2 separate regions of the Homo sapiens genome follow, and region 2 is linked to region 1. Evidence: fine-mapped expression QTL. A gene starts in region 1. The other region holds a variant in brackets. All regions are shown on one strand. Distances are between the middles of the regions. Region 1 holds the start of B4GALT1 (beta-1,4-galactosyltransferase 1). Region 2 overlaps B4GALT1 (beta-1,4-galactosyltransferase 1).

Region 1 (5,515 bases):
ACTCCTTGGAGAACTCCACTTTACGTTCTAAACTAAGTTAGCAATAATTTTTCCCTTCTCTCCTTCCCACATCATTAAGATGATCACAGTATTTAAAAAGTATTTTAACAAATATCGGCCGGGCACGGTGGCTCACAACTGTAATCCCAGCACTTTGGGAGGCCGAGGCAGGCAGATCACGAGGTCAAAAGATTGAGACCATTCTGGATAACACGGTGAAACCCCATCTCTACTAAAAATACAAACAAATTAGCCGGGCATGGTGGCAGGCACCTGTAGTCCCAGCTACTTGGGAGGCTGAGGCAGGAGAATGGCGTGAACCCAGGAGGCAGAGCTTGCAGTGAGCCAAGATCACGCCACTGCACTCCAGCCTGGGTGACAGAGTGAGACTCCGTCTCAAAAAAAAAAAAAAAAAAATCTAGGGGCTGAAGATACAGTAGTGAACAAGAGAGAAATTTCCTGTTCTCATGAAGCTGATTTTCTAATGAGGGAGGCAAGACAACAGAAAATAAATGCATAATGTTGGGTAGTTGATATCCACTCTGAAAAAAATCAAGCAGGTTAAGGCCGGGCGCGGTGGCTCACGCCTGTAATCCCAGCACTTTGGGAGGCCGAGGCGGGCGGATCACCTGAGGTCAGGAGTTTGAAACCAGCCTGGCCAACATGGTGAAATCCGTCTCTACTAAAAACACAAAAAATTAGCCCGGCGTGATGGCAGGCACCTGTAATCCCAGCTACTCAAGAGGCTGAGGCAGGAGAATCGCTTGAACCCGGGAGGCAGAGGTTGCAGTGAGGTGAGATTGCACCATTGCACTCCAACCTGGGGGACAAAAGCAAGACTTTGTCTCAAAAAAAAAAAAAAAAAAATTCAAGCAGTTTAAGCAGATTTGGGCAGGAGGCCATTCTGCATAAGGTAGTCTGAAAAGGTCTCTGTCATAAGGTGACATTTAAGAGACCTGAATTGAATGAAATATTGGGGACAAGTGTTTCAGGCTAAATGAACAGCAAGTACAAAGGCCCTGAGGCAGGAAGAAATATGGCAAGTTCAAGGAATAGCTATCAGGCTAGTGTGGCTAAGGCAGGTCCAGCATGGTAGAGTGACAGATGTGGGTGGGGAGGGAAATAGGAACCAGATTGAACAGGGTTTCTGTGGATTTGGTTCTGAACAAAATGGCATGATCTGATTTATGCTTACAAAGATTTCCTGGATGCTCTGTGGAAAACAGACTAGGGAGGAGGAATGGAGGAGGTGGAAGCAGGGTGACCAATTAGTAGCTGCCATATAACCCAGGGCAAGATGATGGTGGCTTGATCGAGGATGGTTACATCAGAGTTGGCTGGTGGTGAATTTTGATGTTTTGAAGGTAGCACTGACAAAGCTGGCTGAGGGCTTGCAAATGGCATTGAGAGCAAGAGAAGCACATCAAGGACACCTTTTAGATTCTGGGGAACTGAATAAACAATAGTATCACTCTCTGAGGGAGGTAAGAACGGGAGTGGTGTGTAAGGAGTAGGTTGCTGAGGGCAAGATGTATTGTGTTTGAGATGCCAGTAAAATAAGCAGTTGAATCTGGAGGTCAGGGAAGAGATCTGGGCTGGAGACAAATCAGTGATCAGCATTTGGATATTATAAATCATTCCGAGGCAGTAAGTGTAGACACAAAAGAACATCATGGACTATGGCTGGGGCCTTCAGCAACTGGGGAAGAAGTCCAGAGAGGAGACAGAAATGGCCAGTGAAGTGAGGAAGATCAGAAGGACCTGGTGTCCAGGAAGTCAAGTGAGGAAAGTTGATTCTGTATGATCACAACCAAAGTGTCAACTCATAAGCCTTATTTTCTCATCTGTGAAATGGACACCGTAACACCACCTACTTCATGGCAGATAGTACTGGCACACAGCAAACTCTCAAAATAAGGTAGCTACTGTTATTCCCTGATGGTTGGCTGCCAGAGCCCTCAACTTCCCTATCCACATTACTGACAGCACCTCCATGAGTCTTTCTCTGGGGTGAGGTGTCTCTGCTCACTCAGGGCCTGAGGCCTCTGGGTCAAATCGAGGTCAAGTGGCTTCAGTGCCTAAGTCTCTCACCCACACAGCCTTCAGCCCTTACTTGCAAATCAACAAAGGGTAAACCTGTAGAAAACATGGGTTTCGGAGCCAGAATTCTGCCTCTTGCCAGCTGTGGGCTCTTAGGAAAGTTTCTTAATCTGCCGGGGCCCCACTCTACGACATGGGGAGAACTGCTACTTCATGGGACAGTGGGTAGCCCAGTGTAGACTGTAACGCCGGCTGATCTCCTGCACGCTGGCCTGGGAGTTAGAGGCTTCTTGCTGCTCTCCTCTTCAAAGTATACAGGACTCCCGCCACACACACATCTGGAACCAAGCTGGTCTGAGAGCCCCTTATAGCCCAGGCTACCTGATGGGGAGGCACAGAAGTGGCAACCCGTCCACTTTCTTTGCCGCAGGACCCCCCGTTAAGCAGCGGGGTCCAGCCGGGCTGAGTTAGGGAGGGGGTTTCGAACGTGCCACTCCTCGCCCGGCGTCGAAGCCCGTTTCCTGGGTAACCTTTTTCTGCCTCTCTTCCTAGCCCACCAAGGCCCACTGGCCAGAACGCCGCCGCGGCCCCAAACCACTCCAGATAACCACCCGCCAGCTGTCCTCTCCGTTCTCTCCGCCGCCGCGCTGCAGGCCCAGGCTCGCACCCGAGTCCCTTCGCACCCCAGGAAGTGGCGCGGCCTGTCGAGGGCAGCGTGGAGGAGGAAGAGGAGGCGCGGCTCAACGCGACCGAAGCTCCGCCGCAAAGGCTCGGGAGGAAGAGGGCGGTGCGCGGCCAAGCGTCGGAGCTGCAGTCATACTCCGGGGACCCCACGACGGCGCCCCGCCCGCTGCCCACCCTCCCGAGGCCCCGCCCAGCGCGCCCATCCCGCCACGGGCTGCCCCGCCTTCCCGCCCTCGTCCAGAAAACCCCGCGCCCGGCCCCGCCCCCGCCTTCGCCGGGGCCCCGCCCCTCCCCTCTCCGCCGGCGCCTCGGGCGGCTTCTCGCCGCTCCCAGGTCTGGCTGGCTGGAGGAGTCTCAGCTCTCAGCCGCTCGCCCGCCCCCGCTCCGGGCCCTCCCCTAGTCGCCGCTGTGGGGCAGCGCCTGGCGGGCGGCCCGCGGGCGGGTCGCCTCCCCTCCTGTAGCCCACACCCTTCTTAAAGCGGCGGCGGGAAGATGAGGCTTCGGGAGCCGCTCCTGAGCGGCAGCGCCGCGATGCCAGGCGCGTCCCTACAGCGGGCCTGCCGCCTGCTCGTGGCCGTCTGCGCTCTGCACCTTGGCGTCACCCTCGTTTACTACCTGGCTGGCCGCGACCTGAGCCGCCTGCCCCAACTGGTCGGAGTCTCCACACCGCTGCAGGGCGGCTCGAACAGTGCCGCCGCCATCGGGCAGTCCTCCGGGGAGCTCCGGACCGGAGGGGCCCGGCCGCCGCCTCCTCTAGGCGCCTCCTCCCAGCCGCGCCCGGGTGGCGACTCCAGCCCAGTCGTGGATTCTGGCCCTGGCCCCGCTAGCAACTTGACCTCGGTCCCAGTGCCCCACACCACCGCACTGTCGCTGCCCGCCTGCCCTGAGGAGTCCCCGCTGCTTGGTAAGGACTCGGGTCGGCGCCAGTCGGAGGATTGGGACCCCCCCGGATTTCCCCGACAGGGTCCCCCAGACATTCCCTCAGGCTGGCTCTTCTACGACAGCCAGCCTCCCTCTTCTGGATCAGAGTTTTAAATCCCAGACAGAGGCTTGGGACTGGATGGGAGAGAAGGTTTGCGAGGTGGGTCCCTGGGGAGTCCTGTTGGAGGCGTGGGGCCGGGACCGCACAGGGAAGTCCCGAGGCCCCTCTAGCCCCAGAACCAGAGAAGGCCTTGGAGACTTCCCTGCTGTGGCCCGAGGCTCAGGAAGTTTTGGAGTTTGGGTCTGCTTAGGGCTTCGAGCAGCCTTGCACTGAGAACTCTGGTAGGGACCTCGAGTAATCCACTCCCTTTTGGGGACTGACGTGAGGCTCCCGGTGGGGAAGGAGACTGACCTCTCGGTTCACGTGTCTTGCCATAGAGCCACTCTCCTGAGTGGGTTTTTCTCCTGATCGTTTGGGCCAAGTGACTTCTCTCTGAACCTCATATTTCTCTTCTGGGATAATAAATGGTCACCCTTTCAAGGGGTTGTTTTGGAAGATATTGTGAACAATGGTAAATAAGGGCTTAATTAATGAGGGTAAGCCCTCAGTAAATTGTCACTGTGTGTTCATTTCTTCCTCTGTGTGGATCGTGACCGAGAGCCCTTCCCCCTAGCCTCCTCCTGGTATGGGTACCCAAAACCTAGGTGAGCAGGGATCTCTCCCAGGGGCAGAGAGCTTGTGTACTCTGGGTGTTAGAGGGCTAAAATATAACCAGTCAACACCACGTTGCCCATTTCTGGTACTTCCGGTAGCAGCCTGAGTCTCAATTATCTTGCCCAGATGATCTGAACTCTGACCTCTAGCCTGTTTCAGCATAGGCAGAGAGCTTGAGTAGGTGAGTTTGCATTCCTCATAGCAGCTGGCTGAGCCTAGTCTGGACTTCTCTTTGACCTGTAACCTACAGGCCCACAGGCCCAAGGCAACCACAGGTTGCTTCCAGGGTTACCACACAGGTGGTTTCTCATTTCTAATGCTAGGTTTTAGATAATTGTTGTAAGTGAGGGGCCCTGGCAGGCAGGATGACATCCTGCCAATAGGAGTTTTCTGTCACTTTCCCACAGAGCCCTGGCTACTACATACTCTTGCTCAATTTCGCCAGTAATTGCGTCAATGTGTTCATATCAAGTTTGGGAAGAACATCTTGGAATTGGTCAGACGTGAACTGTGGTAATAATGGGGGCTTGTTTTTTTAAGCAGATAATTAAATTCCTTTGCATTTGATGATTATTCTGGGAAGCAGACTAGTCCCATAAAATGAAATGGACTCTGCCTTGCTGCTAAGTGTCTGACTTGAGACATGCTATCGAGTTTCTCAAAATCTCTTCCTTGTGTAAAATGTGGTTGTCGATGATTACCTTACAGGGGTTTTTTTAAGACTAAATGAGATCGTGTACATTAAATACAGGCACTCAGGCTGGGCATGGTGGCTCACGCCTGTAATCCTAGCACTTTGGGAGGCTGAGGGGAGTGGATCACTTGAGGTTAGGAGTTTGAGACCAGCCTGGCCAATATGGTGAAACACCATCCCATCTCTACAAAAATACAAAAAAGTTAGCCAGGGGTGGTGGCATCGCAGCTACTCAGGAGGCCGAGGCAGGAGAATTGCTTGAACCTGGGAGGCAGAGGTTGCAGTGAGTCAAGATTGTGCCAGTACACTCCAGCCTGGGCGACGAAGCAAGACTGTCTAAAAAAAAAAAAAAAAAAAAAAATACGGGCACTCAATACACCGTATAATAATAATATAGTAATAATATTTGCTTAGGATCTTTAAAAAGTTTCATTTTTTCAGACTCCCACAGAAATGGCTCT
Region 2 (5,000 bases), 55 kb after region 1:
GGGATCAGCCAGTTCTGCCTCTTAACTAACTTTGCTGTCCTGCTCTCCAGGCTTTCATTTTGGTCCTCATTCCTTTTCCTTGGACCAACACAGAATCCTCCACCCTGTTCTGGCTGCCTCTAGTCTTGTTCTCAGCCCTCCATTTGTTTTTTTCTGCCTTTTCCCACATGTTCTGAAGCCCTCCATTCGTATACTACTTTCCAGAGACTTCCCCATGGCTAAAAGCATTTTGGAAATACTGTATATTAGGCCCCTTTCAGATACTGGCAACCGTTTGTGGGATGCTCTGAGAAGGCCTCTGTGACTTAGCCTGGCCCTTTTCAGCCCATCACCTGCCACGTCCTACCCCAGACCCTTGTCACCAGTCCCCAGGAGCTTACGTTGCTCCCTGAGGGCACTAGGCTTGCTCTCACTTCCATGCCTTTGCCTGTGCCATCCTGGCTGCCCAAAATGCTATGGCAGATACCTGTTCATCCTCAACTGGGCTCTGCCTAGGCTTGCTCCAGCAGAGGTTACAAACTCTATGCTTCTTCCTCTGTGTCTCCAACCTCATCTTCCTCTTCTCACCTCCATCCTGGCCCTAAAGGCCCTATGTTTGAAGCATTCACACTGTATATTCTGTGGGGCACACGGCCCCAGTGTCTGGCACATGGTAGTCAACACCACAAACCGCAGAACCAGTTGTAAAAGGACATGGAGTCGGAATGTGAGTTTTAACCAGGGTCATGCTGGGCTGGGTTCTGGCATGATGCTGGGTTGTGGGCTGAGTGAGAACAGCAAGGGTGATGGTGGATGGAGCAACAGTCTTGCAGCCGGGGCTCTCAGGCCAAGTGTATGGCAGCTCTGTGATAATGACTTTCCCTTTACTCTTTGCAGATTAGTTTTTAGAGGCATGTCTATATCTCGCCCAAATGCTGTGGTCGGGAGGTGTCGCATGATCCGCCACTCAAGAGACAAGAAAAATGAACCCAATCCTCAGAGGTGCATTCTTTGTTTATTCATACTCCTTCCCCCTTTAGGATGAGGTAGGCTGCAGGTCCGAGGCTCTGGGCCTAGAGGGAAATTGAGGTGGTCAGGTTACAGTGGAGAGGGAGGAGGAAGTACGTGTGATGATTTCTTCTTAAGATTTTTGTTTTAAGACAATCTCCTTGTGCTCTTTTCCTTGTAGGTTTGACCGAATTGCACACACAAAGGAGACAATGCTCTCTGATGGTTTGAACTCACTCACCTACCAGGTGCTGGATGTACAGAGATACCCATTGTATACCCAAATCACAGTGGACATCGGGACACCGAGCTAGCGTTTTGGTACACGGATAAGAGACCTGAAATTAGCCAGGGACCTCTGCTGTGTGTCTCTGCCAATCTGCTGGGCTGGTCCCTCTCATTTTTACCAGTCTGAGTGACAGGTCCCCTTCGCTCATCATTCAGATGGCTTTCCAGATGACCAGGACGAGTGGGATATTTTGCCCCCAACTTGGCTCGGCATGTGAATTCTTAGCTCTGCAAGGTGTTTATGCCTTTGCGGGTTTCTTGATGTGTTCGCAGTGTCACCCCAGAGTCAGAACTGTACACATCCCAAAATTTGGTGGCCGTGGAACACATTCCCGGTGATAGAATTGCTAAATTGTCGTGAAATAGGTTAGAATTTTTCTTTAAATTATGGTTTTCTTATTCGTGAAAATTCGGAGAGTGCTGCTAAAATTGGATTGGTGTGATCTTTTTGGTAGTTGTAATTTAACAGAAAAACACAAAATTTCAACCATTCTTAATGTTACGTCCTCCCCCCACCCCCTTCTTTCAGTGGTATGCAACCACTGCAATCACTGTGCATATGTCTTTTCTTAGCAAAAGGATTTTAAAACTTGAGCCCTGGACCTTTTGTCCTATGTGTGTGGATTCCAGGGCAACTCTAGCATCAGAGCAAAAGCCTTGGGTTTCTCGCATTCAGTGGCCTATCTCCAGATTGTCTGATTTCTGAATGTAAAGTTGTTGTGTTTTTTTTTAAATAGTAGTTTGTAGTATTTTAAAGAAAGAACAGATCGAGTTCTAATTATGATCTAGCTTGATTTTGTGTTGATCCAAATTTGCATAGCTGTTTAATGTTAAGTCATGACAATTTATTTTTC[T/G]TGGCATGCTATGTAAACTTGAATTTCCTATGTATTTTTATTGTGGTGTTTTAAATATGGGGAGGGGTATTGAGCATTTTTTAGGGAGAAAAATAAATATATGCTGTAGTGGCCACAAATAGGCCTATGATTTAGCTGGCAGGCCAGGTTTTCTCAAGAGCAAAATCACCCTCTGGCCCCTTGGCAGGTAAGGCCTCCCGGTCAGCATTATCCTGCCAGACCTCGGGGAGGATACCTGGGAGACAGAAGCCTCTGCACCTACTGTGCAGAACTCTCCACTTCCCCAACCCTCCCCAGGTGGGCAGGGCGGAGGGAGCCTCAGCCTCCTTAGACTGACCCCTCAGGCCCCTAGGCTGGGGGGTTGTAAATAACAGCAGTCAGGTTGTTTACCAGCCCTTTGCACCTCCCCAGGCAGAGGGAGCCTCTGTTCTGGTGGGGGCCACCTCCCTCAGAGGCTCTGCTAGCCACACTCCGTGGCCCACCCTTTGTTACCAGTTCTTCCTCCTTCCTCTTTTCCCCTGCCTTTCTCATTCCTTCCTTCGTCTCCCTTTTTGTTCCTTTGCCTCTTGCCTGTCCCCTAAAACTTGACTGTGGCACTCAGGGTCAAACAGACTATCCATTCCCCAGCATGAATGTGCCTTTTAATTAGTGATCTAGAAAGAAGTTCAGCCGAACCCACACCCCAACTCCCTCCCAAGAACTTCGGTGCCTAAAGCCTCCTGTTCCACCTCAGGTTTTCACAGGTGCTCCCACCCCAGTTGAGGCTCCCACCCACAGGGCTGTCTGTCACAAACCCACCTCTGTTGGGAGCTATTGAGCCACCTGGGATGAGATGACACAAGGCACTCCTACCACTGAGCGCCTTTGCCAGGTCCAGCCTGGGCTCAGGTTCCAAGACTCAGCTGCCTAATCCCAGGGTTGAGCCTTGTGCTCGTGGCGGACCCCAAACCACTGCCCTCCTGGGTACCAGCCCTCAGTGTGGAGGCTGAGCTGGTGCCTGGCCCCAGTCTTATCTGTGCCTTTACTGCTTTGCGCATCTCAGATGCTAACTTGGTTCTTTTTCCAGAAGCCTTTGTATTGGTTAAAAATTATTTTCCATTGCAGAAGCAGCTGGACTATGCAAAAAGTATTTCTCTGTCAGTTCCCCACTCTATACCAAGGATATTATTAAAACTAGAAATGACTGCATTGAGAGGGAGTTGTGGGAAATAAGAAGAATGAAAGCCTCTCTTTCTGTCCGCAGATCCTGACTTTTCCAAAGTGCCTTAAAAGAAATCAGACAAATGCCCTGAGTGGTAACTTCTGTGTTATTTTACTCTTAAAACCAAACTCTACCTTTTCTTGTTGTTTTTTTTTTTTTTTTTTTTTTTTTTTTGGTTACCTTCTCATTCATGTCAAGTATGTGGTTCATTCTTAGAACCAAGGGAAATACTGCTCCCCCCATTTGCTGACGTAGTGCTCTCATGGGCTCACCTGGGCCCAAGGCACAGCCAGGGCACAGTTAGGCCTGGATGTTTGCCTGGTCCGTGAGATGCCGCGGGTCCTGTTTCCTTACTGGGGATTTCAGGGCTGGGGGTTCAGGGAGCATTTCCTTTTCCTGGGAGTTATGACCGCGAAGTTGTCATGTGCCGTGCCCTTTTCTGTTTCTGTGTATCCTATTGCTGGTGACTCTGTGTGAACTGGCCTTTGGGAAAGATCAGAGAGGGCAGAGGTGGCACAGGACAGTAAAGGAGATGCTGTGCTGGCCTTCAGCCTGGACAGGGTCTCTGCTGACTGCCAGGGGCGGGGGCTCTGCATAGCCAGGATGACGGCTTTCATGTCCCAGAGACCTGTTGTGCTGTGTATTTTGATTTCCTGTGTATGCAAATGTGTGTATTTACCATTGTGTAGGGGGCTGTGTCTGATCTTGGTGTTCAAAACAGAACTGTATTTTTGCCTTTAAAATTAAATAATATAACGTGAATAAATGACCCTATCTTTGTAACTGCAGGTGGTTTCTGTTTGCCAGGTGTAAGGGTTGTCATGGCTGTGGGATGGGGTGGGGACAGGGTCATTCCCTGGTCTGTGACCCATACAAATACACATGCCTCCCTGGAATCAGACATTTCCCCATCTGAACTTCATTCTCTTATCTGTAAAATGGGAATAATAACACATAGGGACTTTTTTGAGGCTTAAAAGTGACGATATATGTAAAACAATGACTAATGCCTCACAAGTACTCACTACATAGTAGCTAGTGCCATTTCAAAGTAGAATTTTTTTCCCCTAGCAGTTCTTGGGCCACATTCTGCTATTTTCAACAGATACCAGGATCATTCAGATGTAGATCTCAGGGCCATTTGCACCAGGTGCTCACAGTGTAACTTGAAGGGAATTATCCAAAATGAGGTTTCTTGTCAGTCTCAGGAAATGTAACCATAAGCTCTAAAAGGTCTTAGTTTTTACCCAGGTGCCTCCTCCTTGGTGGCCCTGGGTCAGGCTGGTTGGATTGAATTGGCACTCCTGAAGAAGGGCTGCAGGAAACCAGTGAGCAGGAGAGCCACCCTTGGCAGGGAGCTGCAGGCCCTGCCTGCATGTCACTGCTGGAGGGATCCCTGGTGACCTCAGGCCTGTGCAAAGGTGGCCTGGGGTTCAGATCTGGCCTTCAAACAGGACAACTCTGGTCCTTTGGACAAAATGCTGCCTTAGAGGGTCTGACAAAATTAAAAACAAACAAAAAAAAACCTGTTTCTTTCCTTCTCACACACCACCACTCACAACACTTCAGTTCTGCCCCTAGATATGTAGGGATTTCTCCCCACCAACAAGCAGTTTTCTAGTGGACACTAGCTGGGTGTCCTACAGTTTAACTCAATTCTGACACTGTCT

Evidence for each region. PIP is the estimated chance that this variant, and not a neighbour inherited with it, causes the effect.
Region 2: its variant is fine-mapped to the expression of B4GALT1 in whole blood (TOPMed, PIP 0.98).

What each region holds. Positions count from the first base shown.
Region 1 is chr9:33,164,871-33,170,385 of GRCh38, reverse strand. It overlaps B4GALT1 (beta-1,4-galactosyltransferase 1), which reads left to right and starts at 3,050. Exons shown (of 6, transcript NM_001497.4): 1 at 3,050-3,628. The coding sequence starts at 3,217. B4GALT1-AS1 (B4GALT1 antisense RNA 1) reads right to left here and starts at 3,438. Exons shown (of 3, transcript NR_108110.1): 1 at 3,340-3,438. RefSeq lists enhancers at 2,467-2,546, 2,069-2,633, 2,617-2,716, 2,634-3,199 and silencers at 2,867-3,266, 3,025-3,298.
Region 2 is chr9:33,109,755-33,114,754 of GRCh38, reverse strand. B4GALT1 (beta-1,4-galactosyltransferase 1) reads left to right here. Exons shown (of 6, transcript NM_001497.4): 5 at 877-981; 6 at 1,169-4,113. The coding sequence ends at 1,301. Among named protein-coding and RNA genes, the nearest start is that of MIR12117, 3.6 kb to the right of the region's middle. RefSeq lists an enhancer at 2,565-3,164. The variant T/G (reference allele first, on the strand shown) is at 2,130.